Regions from separate parts of the Homo sapiens genome. Here region 2 is linked to region 1. The links come from fine-mapping of genetic effects on gene expression. Tissue or cell type: whole blood. Region 1 holds a variant in brackets; the other region holds the start of a gene. All regions are shown on one strand. Distances are between the middles of the regions.

Region 1 (8,180 bases):
AGTAGATAAATATGGTCTGAAAAAGTCACAAATATCGAACTTCTTAAATAGTTAAGTGTCAAGATGACGTAAAGAGAAAATTTCTCTAGATGCTAACGTAACTATTAGAAATTATGGAAAGAATTATTTATGGAAAGAATTATTGCTTTCTTTCCTTCTTAAATTTAAGACAAAAGCAAATCACAAAGCTAGCAAAAAACCCCCACGAAACACCAAAAACCCAAACCACTTATTTTCTGTGTGTAGATTCATTATTTGTGAAATAAAAAGCCTCATCTTGTAGTAAGAACTCTTCCAAAATAATCTGAAGGCAACTCGAAACAAGGGAATGGTGAGAACAAAGCCTATTTAAGGTACGTCTGAATTAATCTAACTTAGCTGTCAACGTCCTAATGACTGACGCTTCCCAAACCTCCCTTTTCAAAGGGTGACCAGAATTTCCAGGAAATAAGAAAAACTACTCGCAACATTTAACTGGAAAAATCTAACTCCCCAAATCTCAACGCTCCCTTTCTCCAAACACCTCCAACTGATTAAAACCCCCAAATATTAACAACGGCAACAACAACAAAGATAAATGGTAGCAACATTCCTCTCCCTCGATCCCGTTATTTCATCTCACTATTTTTTGGCTGGGGAAAAAAAAAAATCTCTGGGCCAAGGGGGCGTGAACCTCGAAGAATGTGAACTTCAAATCAATGGGGGGCGGCCGTCGGGTCGCGGAAAGGCCGCGGCGGGGGGCTGCTCGCGCCGGCAGGAAGCAGGGAGAAAGGGGCTGCAAACTGCGGAGGGGGAGGGGGACCGAAAAACCCCGCCACGCGGCCCGGCGAAGGCAGAGGCGCCGCCCTCGCTCCCACGCGGCGGCTGAGGCCCGCTGCGCGGCCTAGTTCGGCGCCAAAGCGGGCGCGGGACCCGCCATCTTCACTCCGTCCCCTCCCCCGGCCCAGTGCCGCCACCACCAGGGTCCTCTCCAGGCGCCTGCGGCCTCCCCGCCTAGGCCCGGAGTACCTGCCTTGTACCTACCTGGTGTCGTCGGCCACGTTCCTGACGAACAGAGACGTGTTGGGGGGACGCAGGTAGCGGGACATGGCGGCGGCGTGTCTCGGCCGGGCGCACTAACGGGCTCAGCAAACCGTCCGCGGCTCAGGCGGCCGAGCCTCAGACACACACAGCTAGAGGGCTCTGCTACGGCAACCGACTCTTCTCGCGAGACTTCACTCCCGCCTCCACTTCCCCCTCCTACCTCCGCGCAAAGTCGGGCGCAACGGTTCTTTCCCGCGAGAACACCAGGCGTCCGCCTGCGCATGCGGAGGGCTGGCGCACGCGCCTCAGCGTCGGTGTCATTCGTTGGCTTCTTGCGGTGCCTCTTACCCTCCCCCAAGCCTGTTCTTTCTTTCTTTAGGTCTTCATTTCCCGCCGTTTTCTACCTTACACTCCACTTCATCTCCACCCCCAAATCAGGAAGCAGATGTTTTAGTCTCTAGGCCAAACTTTGCGGTTACTACTAAATGGACAGATTTTTAAACTATTTAGTTCAGAGAGGCTGCCTTAAATTTCCCGGTTGGTCCAAGTTAATGTCCTGCTTTTATTTTGCCTTAAATTTCCCGTTTGGTCCAGGTTATGCCCTGACCTGCGAAAGAAGGATTTACAGCTTGTATTGAGTGTGTAAAGGAAGGAGGTGTGTGCCCTTGCGCAGAGCTGGGCCTGTCTCTCCAGTGTTTTCAGCCTGCCTTTGCCCCTCACCCACACCCTAGCCATCTCCACTTAGTCACGCATTTGGCTCCCAACCTGGGTGGGACCAAACCTCACACTGTAGGTTCATGACTGTGGTCATTTGTAGTGTATTCTTTGTTGCTGACGGCTTCCTGGGTATGCATCGGACCTGTATTGCAGCAGTTCTCAAACTTTTTGGTCTCAGAACGCCTTTATATTCTTGTGTATTACGGAAGATTCCAAAGAGCTTTTTTTAAAAAAAGTGTGGGTTATACCTATTAATAAATAGTTAATGAGAACTTAAAATAGAGGAAACTTCGGCTGGGCTCGGTGGCTCACGCCTGTAATCCCTCCCTGTACTTTGGGAGGCCGAGGCGGGCAGATCACGAGGTCAAGAGTTTGAGACCAGCCTGACCAACACAGTGAAACCCCATCTCTACTAAAAATACAAAAATTAGCCAGGCGTAGTGGCGCGCGCCTGTAATCCCAGCTACTTGGGAGGCTGGGGCAGAAGAATCGCTTGAACTCGGGAGGCAGAGGTTGCAGTGAGCCGAGATTGCACCACTGCATTCCAGCCTGGGCGACAGGGTGAGACTCCGTCTCAAAAAAGAAAAAAAAAAAAAATAGAGAAAACTTTGACACACTCCACTACCCTTTATCACACATCATGTACCCTCTGGAAAACTCCACGTTTGTAAGAGAATGAGCATGAAAATAGCAAATAATCTTTAGTATGGTTTTGATTTTGGAGGCCCTTTTGAGAGCCATTTCCTGCTCGATAAGAGTCAACTTCTGGAGATGAGAGACTTCAGTTGGAATGCCTCCAGCGTGTGGCACAGTGCCAAGCAGGTAGCAGGGACTCAAGTACTGTTAAATTAAATGAACTTTTATTTAATAAAAAGTCATAAAGGCATTATTTTTGTGTCAATCAGCATCTAAGACAATTAAGTGATTCGATACAGGTGATGATAGTTTGTAGCACTCTGTAGCAGAGCTATTCTAAATTTTTGTTTCCCAAGATTTGCATGCTTAATTTATTAAAATGTTGGGCCAGGCAAGGTGGCCCCAAAATCCCAGCATTTTGGGAGGGTGATGTGAAAAACAAAACAAAACAAAAAAAAGTTTGATTCCCTGTTATGTGTCAGACATTGTGCTAGAAGCTTGAAATTCAGTAATGAAAAACATACAGCTTATATTTCTAGGGCGATGGCAATGAGAAAATAAAGTAAATGCAGGTTTGTTATATGAAAGAAACAGTAATGTGATAGGTTTTTTCTTGTTTTTGATTTTTACTTATTTTTATTTTATTTTATTTTTTGAGATGTAGTCTTGCTCTGTTGACCAGGCGTGAATGCAGTGGCTGGATCTTGGCTTACTGCAGCCTCCGCCTCCTGGGTTCAAGCGATTCACCTACGTCAGCCTCCCGAGTAGCTGGGACTACAGGCTCCTGCCACCATGCCTGGCTAATTTTTCTGTTTTCAGTAGAGATGGGTTTTCACCATGTTGGCCAGGCTGGTCTCAAACTCCTGACCTAATTGATCCGCCTGCCTTGGCCTTCCAAAGTGCTGAAATTACAGGTGTGAGCCACTGTGCCCCCGGCCTTGTTTTTAATTTTTAAAACAGGTTTGCCTAGGAAGGCCTTGCTGAGCAAGTGTCTCCCCTGCCCCTCTCAGTTAAATACTTTCAGTGGCAAGAAAACAGAGTCCTGCAAATTACCTTAAGTAATGGAGGAAATTTACACTGTCTGGTGCTACTCCAGCCACTCATGTTTAATAGGGTGAAGATTTAGAATGGAGTCTGATGCATAGAAAGTGCCCTAAAATGTTAACAGGATCACAGGGGCCCAGTACAACATGAAAATGCAAGGCCCTTCATTCAATATTTATTAAGAAATTCAAAACGACAATCGCAGAGTACTAAGCCAAGTGCAGGGTCCTTCTGAGCATGGGGCCCATTCCAGTGCACAAGTAGCACGCTCAAGAAGCTGGCCCTGAATGCCAGCAATTATTATTATTCATAATGCCTTGAGAAATAATACAGGCAACTGAGGGACATATATTTACTCACCAGAATTGCTTTCCGCCTCACACTCAAAGTGTCCCTTTTTTTTTTTTTTTTTTTGAGATGGAGTCTCGCTCTGTCGCCCAGGCTTGAATGTAGTGGTGCAGTCTCAGCTCGCTGCAACCTCTTCCTCCCGGGTTCCAGTGATTCTCCTGCCTCAGCCTCCCCAGTAGCTGGAATTACAGGCATGTGCCACCACGCCCGGCTAATTTTTGTATTTTTAGTAGAGGTGGGGTTTCACCATGTTGGCCAAGCTAGTCTCGAACTCCTGACCTTAAATAATTCACCCACCTCGGCCTTCCAAAGTGCTGGGATTACAGGCGTGAGCCATTGTGCCCAGCCCACAAAGTGCCCTTTGATGTTTTCTGCTGTAGGATCCCAGAACCTAGAAAAAGATGATGCTGGGAAAAGTAGAGAGAGAGAGTGAACTCCTTTCTGCCAGAGATAGGGCTTGAGCTGGGTAATTTACCAAACTACAAATCTGCTGGGGGTTGGGGGACAGGGACAAGGGAAGATACACTAAGGGATTTTGGAAGCGCAACATCGCATCCCGGAAGTGCTGCCCAGTGTGCTAAGAGCACTGTATTTAATTCTGAGTATAACACCAGGGCCGGTAATTTTTCTGAAGACCCAAATGATAAGTTCTCTCTCTCTCTTTCTTTATTTTCCTTCTTTCCCTTTTTTTAGAGATGGAGTCTTGCTCTGTCGCCCAGGCTGGAGTGCAGTGGTAGGATCTCGGCTCACTGCAACCTCTGCCTCCCGGGTTCAAGCGATTCTTCTGCCTCAGCCTCCCAAGTAGCTGGGATTACAGATGCCCGCCACCTCACCTGGCTAAGTTTTTGTATTTTTAGTAGAGATGGGGTTTCACCATGTTGGCCAGGCTGGTCTCAAACTCCTGACCTCATGATCCACACGTCTCAGCCTCCCGAAGTGCTGGCATTACAAGCATGAGCCACCGTGCCCGGCCTCTTTCTTCTTTTCTTTCTTTCCTT[GT/G]TTTTTTTTTTTTTTTTTTTTGAGACAGTCTTGCTCTGTCTGGAGTATAGTGGTGCGATCACAGCTCACTGCAACCTCCACCTCCCAGGCTCAAATGATCCTCCCACCTCAGCCTCCCTAGTAGCTGGGACTACAGGTTCGTGCCACCATGCTTGGCTAATTCTGTAAGGTTTTTGTAGAGACGAGTTTTACTATATTGCTCAGGCTGGTCTCGAACTCCTGGGCTCAAGCAATCATCCTGCGTCAGCCTCCCAAATTGCTGGGATTACAGGTGTGAGCCCCTGCACTTGGCCTCCAAATGTTAATTTCTGAAAATGATCTGTTGGGTGCTGCACCTCTTCTTGAAGACACTATGTTTTATTGAGATTTATGTTAGAAAACCACTTTCCTTGGTACTGTTCTCAGAACTGCACAAATAAAACCCAAATGTAAACAATATAACTGAATTTCCTTGATCCTGAAATAGTTCTTCCTTGATTTGTGGGTAATGGCACACTCATTGAGCCATTCTGCTTGCTGGAAGGAGACTCACAGGGACAAATACTGTGTGTTAAGTCAGTGGAATTCTGAGCCTGACTCCATAGGCAGAACCAAAGCCTTGAGTCAATACAACATTAATTTTATTGGTACAATTGCTTAATTCAGACAACTGCCACAGACAGTGCTTGGTGTTGTGTCTCTGTCTCCATGAGCAAACAATCAATTAGAAGCATGTTCATTTAATTTGTTTGATAAGACATGCCTGGTATTTCCTATAAGCTGCCTCACTCTAGTGAGTGGGCAGCAAGCCAAGTTCTTCAGACTGCGAGAACTCAGTGTTCTCATTTAAACATTCCTTTACTTGTGAGTTGGAAACTTTTGGGCACATACATATGTACACATTTATCAATTTATTAATATCTATGTGCAGGCTCACCTTTCAACCCCTGCTCTGACTAATTTTGCTCTGTGGGAGAATTCATGGCTAATGGACATATTTTTTCACCACATTATTTTTTTAATTTTTATTTTTTTGAGACAGGGTCTCGCTCTGTTGCCCAGCCTGGAATGCAGTGGCAGAGTCATGACTTATTGCAGCCTTGACCTCCCAGGCTCAAGAGATCATCCCACCTCAGCCTCCCAAGTAGCTGAGACTGAGACGCAAGCCACCACGCCCCACTAATTTTTTTTTTCTAATTTTTTGTAGAGATGGAGTCTCACTACATTACCCAGGCCCATCTTGAACTCCTGGGCTCAAGCTGTCCTCCCACCGAGGCCTCCCAAAGTGTTGAGATTACAGGTGTGAGACACTACTTCTGGCTTAATGCCTTAAAATAACACTTTTCCTAGTTATACATGTTAAAACTTTGGAGATGAAAAATATAAAGGAAACAAAAATCACCTGTTATCCTACCACTCAGAACTAATTGCTATTAAAACTTCGATTATTATTATTATTTTGAGAAGGAGTTTTGCTCTTGTCACCCAGACTGGAGTGCAGTGGCGTGATCTCAGTTCCCTGCAAACTCCGCCTCCTGGATTCTCCTCCCTCAGCCTCTTGAGTAGCTGGGATTACAGGCGCCTGCCACCATGCCCAGCTAATTTTTGTACTTTAAATAGAGACGAAGTTTCACCATGTTGGCCCGGCTGGTCTCGAACTCCTGACTTGAAGCGATCTGCCCACCTTGGCCTCCCAAAGTGCTAGGATTACAGGTGTGAGCCACCACGCCCGACCTAGAGTCTGACTCTTAAATGCTACATGACATCTCCCTGGAAAAGTAGATCAGGGAGCTCTGATTTACCAAGGAGTGCGTGTAGGGGCTGAGAAAAGGTAAGAACCTTTACCTTAAGACTTTATAGAATTCTCAAGGCTTACTGTTCTTTGTAGCCTGGTTATCTAGGCTAACATGTAACAATTGGTATCATGTAACAAAGGGCATGGGAAAGAACTGAATAAATACAATCATGGGCTTCATAACAAGGTTTTGGTCAATAATTGGCCCTGTATACCAGTAGTCTCCAACCTTTTTGGCACCAGGGACCAGTTTCTTTTTTTTGTTTGTTTGTTTGTTTTGTAATAGTTTTATAGGTTCATTTATTTATTACATTTAAATCTTTGCTTGTGTGAAATCTCTTTCAATGAAACTTGTGAGATAGGGATTTGAATTTATTTTTTCCAGTGGGCTACCCTATACTACAATACAATTCTGGATAACCTACCATTGCCCCTTTTTATTTTTTAGAGTCAGGATCTCACTCCATCACCCAGGCTGGAGTGCAGTGGTGCGATCATAGTGCACTACACCCTCAAGCTCCTGGGCTCAAGTAATTCTCCTACCTCAGCCTCCCAAGTATTAACAGGTAGGACTGCAGGCATGTGCCATCATGCCTAGCTAATTTTTTAAATTTTTGTAGAGACGGGTTTCAAACTCCTGACCTCAAGCAATTTTCCCACCTTTGCCTCAAAGTGTTGGGATGACAGGCGCGAACTATGACACCCTCCCTTCTCCATTGATTTGAAATGCCACTTTATGTATTTGGGTCATTTCTGGATGCTCTATGCTGTCTTATTCAAATGGATTAGTTATCCTAGCTTTATATTTTATTGGCTTGTTTAGCTATTTCTTTTCTTTTTTTTTTTTTATTGATCATTCTTGGGTGTTTCTCACAGAGGGGGATTTGGCAGGGTCATAGGACAATAGTGGAGGGAAGGTCAGCAGATAAACAAGTGAACAAAGATCTCTGGTTTTCCTAGGCAGAGGACCCTGCGGCCTTCCACAGTGTTTGTGTCCCTGGGTACTTGAGATTAGGGAGTGATGATGACTCTTAACGAGCATGCTGCCTTCAAGCATCTATTTAACAAAGCACATCTTGCACCGCCCTTAATCCATTTAACCCTGAGTGGACACCGCACATGCCCCAGAGAGCACAGGGCTGGGGGCAAGGTCACAGATCAACAGCATCCCAAGGCAGAAGAACCCCTCCCAGTACAGAACAAAATGAAGTCTCCCATGTCTACTTCTTTCTACACAGACACAGTAACAATCTGATTTCTCTATCTTTTCCCCACCTTTCCCCCTTTTCTATTCCACAAAACCGCCATCGTCATCATGGCCCGTTCTCAATGAGCTGTTGGGTACACCTCCCAGACGGGGTGGTGGCCGGGCAGAGGGGCTCCTCACTTCCCAGAAGGGGCGGCCGGGCAGAGGCGCCCCCCACCTCCCTCTCGGACGGGGCGGCTGGCCGGGTGGGGGCTGACCCCCACCTCCCTCCCGGACGGGGCGGCTGGCCGGGTGGGGGCTGAACCCCCACCTCCCTCCCGGAAGGGGCGGCTGGCCGGGCGGGGGCTGAACCCCCACCTGCCTCCCGGACGGGGCGGCTGGCCAGGCGGGGGCTGACCCGCCACCTCCCTACCAGGGACCAGTTTCATGGAA
Region 2 (8,180 bases), 23 kb before region 1:
CCTCAGCCTCCCAAGTAGCTGGGATTACAGGCATGCGCCACACGTCCAGCTAATTTTTTGTATTTTTAGTAGAAACAGTGTTTCACCAAGTTAGCCAGGCTGGTCTCGAACTCCTGACCTCACGTGATCTGCCCACCTCGGCCTCCCAAAGTGTTGGGACTACAGGCGTGAGCCACTGTGCCCGGCCCAGAAACACTTGCTTTTTGCTCCACCTCTACTTACAGATTAGGTAGATAATGTTTTCCTAATGATTTCATTGATTTTGGTTGCCACTGATACATAGCTCAAAACAGATCCTCCAGTGAAAAAATTTCAGCAAGTTGTGAGAGTCCCCCTCCTTTTCTACTTTATTTGCAGGGTCCAGTAACAATGTTTGTTACCTGCACCTCCTGAGTGAGGTTAGCAGGCTGATTTTGGCCTTGCCTGTCCTTGACTCTCAGGGGAAGAAGGGAGGGAATAAATCTTCCCAGACACTAGTTTCCCTCTCTGGTAAATTGTAAAGGAAACAGCTTTTGGGTTCCTTTAGGGCCAGGATGGAGCCTCCTTCACTGCTGTATCCCCAGAGCGTGGCATAGTGCCTGGCACAAAGTAGGCACCAGATAAATCTTTGCTAAATATTTTGTATTAAACATCCATGTATTTATTATGCATTTGGCTTCCAGTTTAGGTGAGCTGTATCCTGAGAGCTGTTTGTCGGCATCAACATTTTCCTATTTGAATTGAGAACTGCTAATAGGATTGTGCTGGTGGAGCTGAGTTTAAAGACCATATGGTTCTGGCAGAGGCTGTATCAGATGTCCCAAAAAAGGTATTATTTTAACTTCTCCTCTCTAGTTCTGAGCTGTTGCGGGCACTTGGTAAATACTAATGAATGATGAGGCTGGAGCTAGCCTGAGAGGGTGCTGGGAGTCTGGGACGCAGTAAAAGCTTTAACAGTGCTTTCCCCAAGGGCATCTCGACTCTGACCTTCTGGCAAAGAAACTGGTTCTGCCAGATGGTAGGATGGAGGCTTCTTGTTGCCCGAACAGCCCCGGCAGCCCAGTCAACAGTCAGTGTCTGCTCTGAGCAAAAAACCTTTTAGGTGCTGGAGAGCACAGATGCTGCAGGCAACCTGCAGCCTGGCCTCTTGAATCCTAGTACCTGGCTTTCAACTCGAAACCGTCTGAGCCTTCATCTGTACAGTGCGGATGAAAACAGCTCCTACCTCACAACATTATTGTGAGGATTAAATGAAATGATGTAAGAAAAAAAAATTTAGCACAGGGTAGGGGGCAGAGTAAGGATACTCTGTGTGGGTTTATACATTTCCAATGTTATGTGTGCGTTTATGCAGATAAAATTCAGAGTGGCTGAAGAGATGAATTTTTTTTTTTTTTTTTTGAGACAGTGTCTTACTCTCACCCAGGAGTGCAGTGTTGTGATCGCAGCTCACTGCAGCCTCTACTTCCTGGGCTCGGGTGATTCTCCCACCTTAGTCTCTCAGGTAGCTGGGACTACAGGCGTGTGCCACCATGCCCAGCTAATTGTTATTTGTAGAGATGGGGTTTTGCCATGTTGCCCAGGCTGGTCTCAAACTCCCGCGCTCAAGTGATCCTCCTGCCTCGGCCTCCCAAATTGCTGAGATTACAGGTGTGAGCCATGCCCTGCCATGAAAAGACTAACTCTAGACTGCAATGGCTTTGAATAATTTTCTAAACGTTTAGAGTTTAGATTTTATTCCGTATCACAATTTGGAGCCACGGAAGTGTTTTTTTGTTTGTTTTTTGTTTTTTAAAGTGACACCATTAAAAATTCATTAAATACAGCTGGCTATTATCTGGCTAGACGTCTAAGCAAACTTCTTGAATGTTTGGAAAACAGATTACACTTTCACTAAGACACCTGTTGGTTTACCACATACTTCTTATTTGAATATGATTAGCATCAGAAAGTCCCTATGCTCAAAAATACCTCTTTTATCAAATTAGATTAACAAACTGCATCCCGTAAGATGCAGTAACTTTTCTTAAGATCCAATGGCTAGAATATAGGAATTTGGGTTGGATTGGGAAGTGGGGGATAACGGTGGCAAAAAATTGAAGATTAAAAAACGAAATACAGGCCGGGTGTGGTGGCTCACGCCTGTAATCCCAGCACTTTGAGTGGCTGAGACGGGCGGATCACGTGAGGTTAGGAGTTTGAGACCAGCCTGGCCAACATGATGAAATCCTGTCTCTACTAAAAATACAAAAATTAGGAGGGTGTGGTGGCAGGCGCCTGTAATCCCAACTACTCAGGAGGCTGAGGCAGGAGAATCGCTTGAGCCCAGGAGGCGGAGGTTGCAGTGAGCCGAGATTGTGCCACTGCACTCCAGCCTGGGCGACAGAAGGAGACTCCGTCTCAAAAATAACGAATTACATGAGATTTATAAAAAGTTGGTAAATATAAATTCTGTAACGTAAACTTGGGTATATATGTGTATACACGAACAAACTGTGAATGAGACTGATTTTGTACCGTTTGGCCCAGAATTATTCACGCTCATTGAAATTAGTGCTCTTTTAAAAGATTCACATTGGGTTACTTATACATTTACTCCAAAGAAATTGCCATTTTCCCCTTACCTGCATCTGGCTGGCATAATCAACTGAACAATATTCTCTTTCTTCCCCTTTTTCACTTACAAGTGGGGCAGAAAGGGGAGGAGAGCAGTCCTCATTCTTTCAGCAAACTTACTGTGCACTTACAACGCGCGAAGGCGCTGTGCTCAGAGAAACAAAACCTAACCGGTTGTGGCCCTCGAGGGTGTGTGGGTGGGGAGAGCTGCAGCCACAGGAAACGGTAACACGGCGCGTAAAGGGCTCTAATTGAACTTAAGGACCAATGGGGCCACCAAGCAGGAAGTGACTGACTTGCCCGCGTGTGTCTGAACCGCCTTCACAGGGAGGCAACTTTTGAGTAATTGCGGGGCTGGAGGGTGGGGGCACTGGAGGGAACCGCGGGGAGGCGCCGGCTTCGGACGCGGAGTTGTGGGTGTGGGAGAGAGGCGACCCAGAAGCCGAGGCCCGAGGCGGGAGGGGGCTGCGCCCTGGCAAGAGGCTTTCCGGAGTATCTTCCATCTGTCAATACAGGCTACAGGACTCAGTGGCCCTAATTCGAGAACCAAACGTCCCCCGCCGGTCAGTCTTTTCCCCCAGGGCAGTCCCAAGGGCGGCGAGCCCGCGCGCACGAGAGCCGAGCGGTAGGAAGAGCCGAGAGCTAGCGGCCGGGGCCTCGGCGGGCCAGGGGCGCGGAGAGGCCGCCGGAGAAAGGACTAAGACACCGGTGGACCGAGCAGTTACTCCCGGCATGCTCCTCCTCCCCGGGCAGATTTCAAACCCTCTGCAGCCCCACCTCCGCGCCTTCGCCCCCGGCCAGCCCCAGCAACAGGCGGCGGCCCGCTTCTCATTGGCCAGGCCCGCGCTGTCGTGTTTTGATTGGCCGCGGAGCCTCCCGGCCCTGCTTCTGCAGTCGCTGCCGACTCCATTTTGTCGGTAGAGGCAGAAGGAGAAGGTCGGGTTGTAGAAGCTGGGGTGGCCGGCAGCTCGCTCATCGGTGTTCGTGGGCTTTGTCGGTCCGTGCCTCGTCTCTCCCTGGAAAGGGAGGGAGGCTTCGACGTCGAGAGGGAGCCGCTGCCGCGTTAGTTCCGAGCTTGAAGTCAGTAAGTAGCGGCTGCGCTAAGGGCGCGGCCATGTTGGTGGCCGCGCTCCCCATTGTTGGAGGAAGGAGGCGAGCGGAGGCGAGATCCGGGTAACCCGGGCGGGCGCGGGCGGTCACGGGCGGTCGCAGCGCCGCGACCCCTGCGGCTCCGGAGAGATGGGGCCACTGGGAAGCCAAGCCCTTGTGGCGTCGGAGGAGGCGTTTTCCGGGTTCGAGTTGGGAATTACTCACAGTCCGGAAATGGCAATTTATTTAGGGTTGTTTATCTGTTTGGAAAGCTCTCTTACCCCTTTGAAAGGAGGGGGCTTAACTATTTGGTAACTTATTTTCTTGGAACATCAAATTAAAACCAAACCTTGAAAGTTAAGCTGTTCCCTCTAGGGAGACATTTTTATATATTTAAGATGGGCTTAGACTGTTAGGGCTTGTGAGAACTTATTTTAAGACGGGGAGGAGGCGAGAGCGTTCATAACCAAAGGAAACACTGCGTGATGTCTACATGTTCCAAGAGACTGAAAATGGATGTGACATGTGTGGAAAGATTGGAAAATTCTGGTGGGAGTTTAAAAACACGGTCTCTTTAGAAAATCCGCCTGAAGCCAATTTTTTGATATGACTCAACATTTAACACTTCCTTGATTTTATACGCGAGAGAATCTGAAGGTCTTTCCCAGGAAAAAGATAAAGATAAAACTTATTGCGGGACTTGGAGACACTTACAAAAATTCCCCAGGAGTGACTGGATCTCAAGGGTGAAGAGTTTTTTTAAATGGTCGTGGTTATAAGGTCAAAGAAAGCCATCTTACGAGAAATTTTCTACCTTTTAGTTCAGGAAGTAGCCTTCTTTACAGTCAACGATTTTCGTAGTAAATCTAAATGATCACTTTCTCAACGTGTTTTTGAAATAATGAAGTAATCTTTACTTTTCTAGCTAGGACTTCTCTCAAACTTGTGTGCTGAGGAGACTCAGATGTTGGCCTCAGCTCCTAGGCTGAACTCAGCAGATCGGCCCATGAAAACTTCTGTATTGAGACAAAGGAAGGGATCTGTCAGAAAGCAACACTTGTTATCTTGGGCTTGGCAGCAAGGAAGAGGACAGGTAGTGGAGATCCTGCAATCTGAAAAGCAGACTGAAAGGTAATCATCATAATGGGCAAACATTTTATGATGGAACCATCCTAAACCAATTGTTTTTATTTTAAAATAGATTATGTAGATTTGTGGGTAAGCTCATTTTTCTTAGGGAAGGTATAACAATAAAGGTTGTGCATATATTGAAGTCTGAACGGCTTGCTTTTTTGAGTTTAAAGCAGCTGAATAGCCTGTTATTGAGTCTTGTCCAAAATATCTGGAGTTATAAGTTGGAGCCATAGAAGCTTCTTAAAGATTTTGAACTTTTCTTAATGGAATTTTACTCAATATTTGTTTCCATTCACTTGTAGGTGACAAAGAAGCTGAAGATGGGTGGTGGAGAGAGGTATAACATTCCAGCCCCTCAATCTAGAAATGTTAGTAAGAACCAACAACAGCTTAACAGACAGAAGACCAAGGAACAGAATTCCCAGATGAAGATTGTTCATAAGAAAAAAGAAAGAGGACATGGTTATAACTCATCAGCAGCTGCCTGGCAGGCCATGCAAAATGGGGGGAAGAACAAAAATTTTCCAAATAATCAAAGTTGGAATTCTAGCTTATCAGGTCCCAGGTTACTTTTTAAATCTCAAGCTAATCAGAACTATGCTGGTGCCAAATTTAGTGAGCCGCCATCACCAAGTGTTCTTCCCAAACCACCAAGCCACTGGGTCCCTGTTTCCTTTAATCCTTCAGATAAGGAAATAATGACATTTCAACTTAAAACCTTACTTAAAGTACAGGTATAAAATAAGACAAATGTTTAAATTTAGTTATGTTCACGGATAGTTGTCAATTGGTCTGAAACAAATTCGCTAGGGAATCTATTTGTGTAGAACTAATTAATGTAAAAAAAATAGACCATCTCGTGTTGTGTGCACTGTGATATAATGGTAGTATCAGTGCAACTTAAACTAATGATTGTACTTGATATTAAGTGTTCTCAACTGAGTAACTTTTAAGTGGAAACCAAGTTTAGATTTGGGGAGTGGTAAAGGAATCAGCTTTTTCTATTGTTAGGGGAAGACAGTAATTTATCATTCATGGACCAGTAGATTGTTGAAAGTTGGTGAATCGGATTATAAGCTTCTAGCTAACACAAGGATTCAGAATTAGGTAAACATCTGAAGGTTTAGTATATTAGAAACACCCAAACCAGTAATATGCTAACCTGATGCACTGCTGAAAGAAAATGTGAATTTTTCGTAATAATTGCATTTTAGTGAATTGTACAGTGGGTGGAAAGGGCATTTGGAGCTCATTAGAATGAGACATAGTACACCCCAATGGCCCTGTTTATTAAATGTAGTGGATTAAGTGTCTGTCAACAAATACACCAAAACCATTTTTTATAGAAACAGTATTTAATGGTCACTCAATAGCTTTCAAAATACATTTTTGTATTACAGCACTGCACAAGCTATTCTAATAGTGCTCTGGCCTCATCATTCCTGCAAAGCTTGCTTTGGGGAGTTGGATAATGTGAAAATTTTAAGTACCTAGGGGAGAAAGAGCCATGTAAATATCTGTAATAAACTTGTAGCATATGTAAAGTTTTCTTGGCCTTTATCTTACAAAAATGGAGTATTTTAGTATGAATTTGCTGAATGTAAGACCGTGGACTGTTTTTTATAATATGGCCTAATTTTAAAGGTCCAAAATAACTTGTTTTTAAAGTTTGCCCTTGTGCTAAAGTGCCAGTGTATGTATGTTATACTTGATTTGGTTGTAAACTATATTTCAAAGTAAACCCTAGTGTAATAAGTTTTATAACTAAAAAGGTTTAAGCTGCTAAAACTATTTTTAAGAGATGTGAAATGCAGTATGGGACTATCTTTTTTTCCTCCTCTAAGCCCAAAGATTAACTAGAGTCCCTCCAACCTTATAGATTGTTGGCTTTCACAATCTTATAACCTAGGATACAGGTAGTTTCGAGTATGGTGCCAGTGATGTTTTGTTTTTGTTTGGTCAAGGGGTAGGTGCAACCCAATGGACCACTTATGCAAAAGATGTAAACTCTTGCATAATACATTGATAACATGTTTTGCCAACTTTAAATGCTTAAACATAAGCGAAACCAGTAGCAAGTATGTGGGTCAGCTTAAAAATTTTGATTGTTAATGCCCTATTTTCTAATTTGGCACCTCTTGATGCCTAAGCAGGTAAGCAGATGCCTAAGCTGTATTTCTCCAAATAAATCAAGATGAAGTACTGCCCAAGTTAAATATTGATAGCCTAAAGACAAGTTTATGTAGTACTTAATGTACATGATATGAATGTGAAGCATAAAATTAAATAAAATTTTTCCCCATTGGCTTGGTTTTATTTTAAAAATGGTTTTGATTGCTTAATATTCTTTTTAAAAATGTGTTTTACTTGTCACTGACTTGAAGCTCATAATACACTCACAATATTCCAAACTCTTGGATTTCTCAGACTCCAGAACTATGAACCACTACATTTCTGATCATATATATATACGTATATATAAAAAAGGTCACAACTAAAATGTGATAGGACTGTTGGCTTGAAAAGGGGCAACTAGTTTGCTGACTGATACAGAAGATACTAGGATTTGACAGCTATGCAGTTAAGCAACTACTTAGGATTTCTCTCTCCCAGTAGTGTTAATTAAAAAGCAAAAAAAAGGCCACACATGGAAAACATCGCAAAGCTTTTGAAAGTTAATTCCATGATCTAGGTTCATAGAAAAAAAATTATAAGCAAATTTATCAAGTTGACAAGAACCCTTGTGTTTTAAGTATGTTGACAAATGAAAAGTATATAAGGGGACCCCTCAGAAGAAAAGCATCACAACCACACCTTTCTGATACAGATTCCAAATGATAGGGCATCTTAAAACTAGTTTGAGTAATCCTTAAAATGCTACAACTAGTCCCATGGCAAAGCTGTATTATTTTCATGCAAACTAGTTAACAATTTGGAGTTAAGGCAGAACCAGCATTTGGGTGTTCATTTTGTTTCCAGGGTAATTTCTGTGAACAATGCCAAGGATTGCAGAATTGAACTTCATGTATTGGACAAATCTCAGCCTAGGTGTCTGTTAGTTTTTAAGCTATATATTGAATCTAGTGTATATATTGAATACACTAGATTTTTAGTGACTAATCTAGTAATACACTAGATTTTTGGTTTGACTCAAGCAAAATGAGTAAATGGAAGTGGGAGTGGAAGATTACCTAACTTCATACTTTAGGAAAGGTACTGATAAAAGTTTTGGTTAGCCTATATAGAGAATGGTGATAGGAATTTCCCAAGTCGATGCAATTGCGAGAACCAAAAATAGCTGGTACAGAGAACTTACCATGTAAGGCTGCTGAAGTCAGCCATACTGTGAACCTTAGGTAAAT

The links. PIP is the estimated chance that this variant, and not a neighbour inherited with it, causes the effect.
Region 2: it holds the start of PNRC2, and the variant in region 1 is fine-mapped to the expression of PNRC2 in whole blood (INTERVAL, PIP above 0.99).

The regions. Positions count from the first base shown.
Region 1 is chr1:23,979,168-23,987,347 of GRCh38, forward strand. It overlaps SRSF10 (serine and arginine rich splicing factor 10), which reads right to left and starts at 1,160. Exons shown (of 6, transcript NM_054016.4): 1 at 1,024-1,160. The coding sequence starts at 1,088. RefSeq lists enhancers at 387-1,377, 615-664, 1,095-1,424, 1,378-2,368, 1,435-1,484. The variant GT/G (reference allele first, on the strand shown) is at 4,767.
Region 2 is chr1:23,956,320-23,964,499 of GRCh38, forward strand. PNRC2 (proline rich nuclear receptor coactivator 2) reads left to right here and starts at 3,509. Exons shown (of 3, transcript NM_017761.4): 1 at 3,509-3,679; 2 at 4,610-4,815; 3 at 5,121-7,143. The coding sequence starts at 5,139. The coding sequence ends at 5,558. SRSF10 (serine and arginine rich splicing factor 10) reads right to left here. Exons shown (of 6, transcript NM_054016.4): 6 at 8,028-8,180. LOC124903877 (a long non-coding RNA gene) reads right to left here and starts at 1,795. Exons shown (of 4, transcript XR_007065541.1): 1 at 1,783-1,795; 2 at 197-199. RefSeq lists enhancers at 1,739-2,367, 2,546-2,605, 3,506-3,775 and silencers at 2,686-2,785, 3,196-3,305.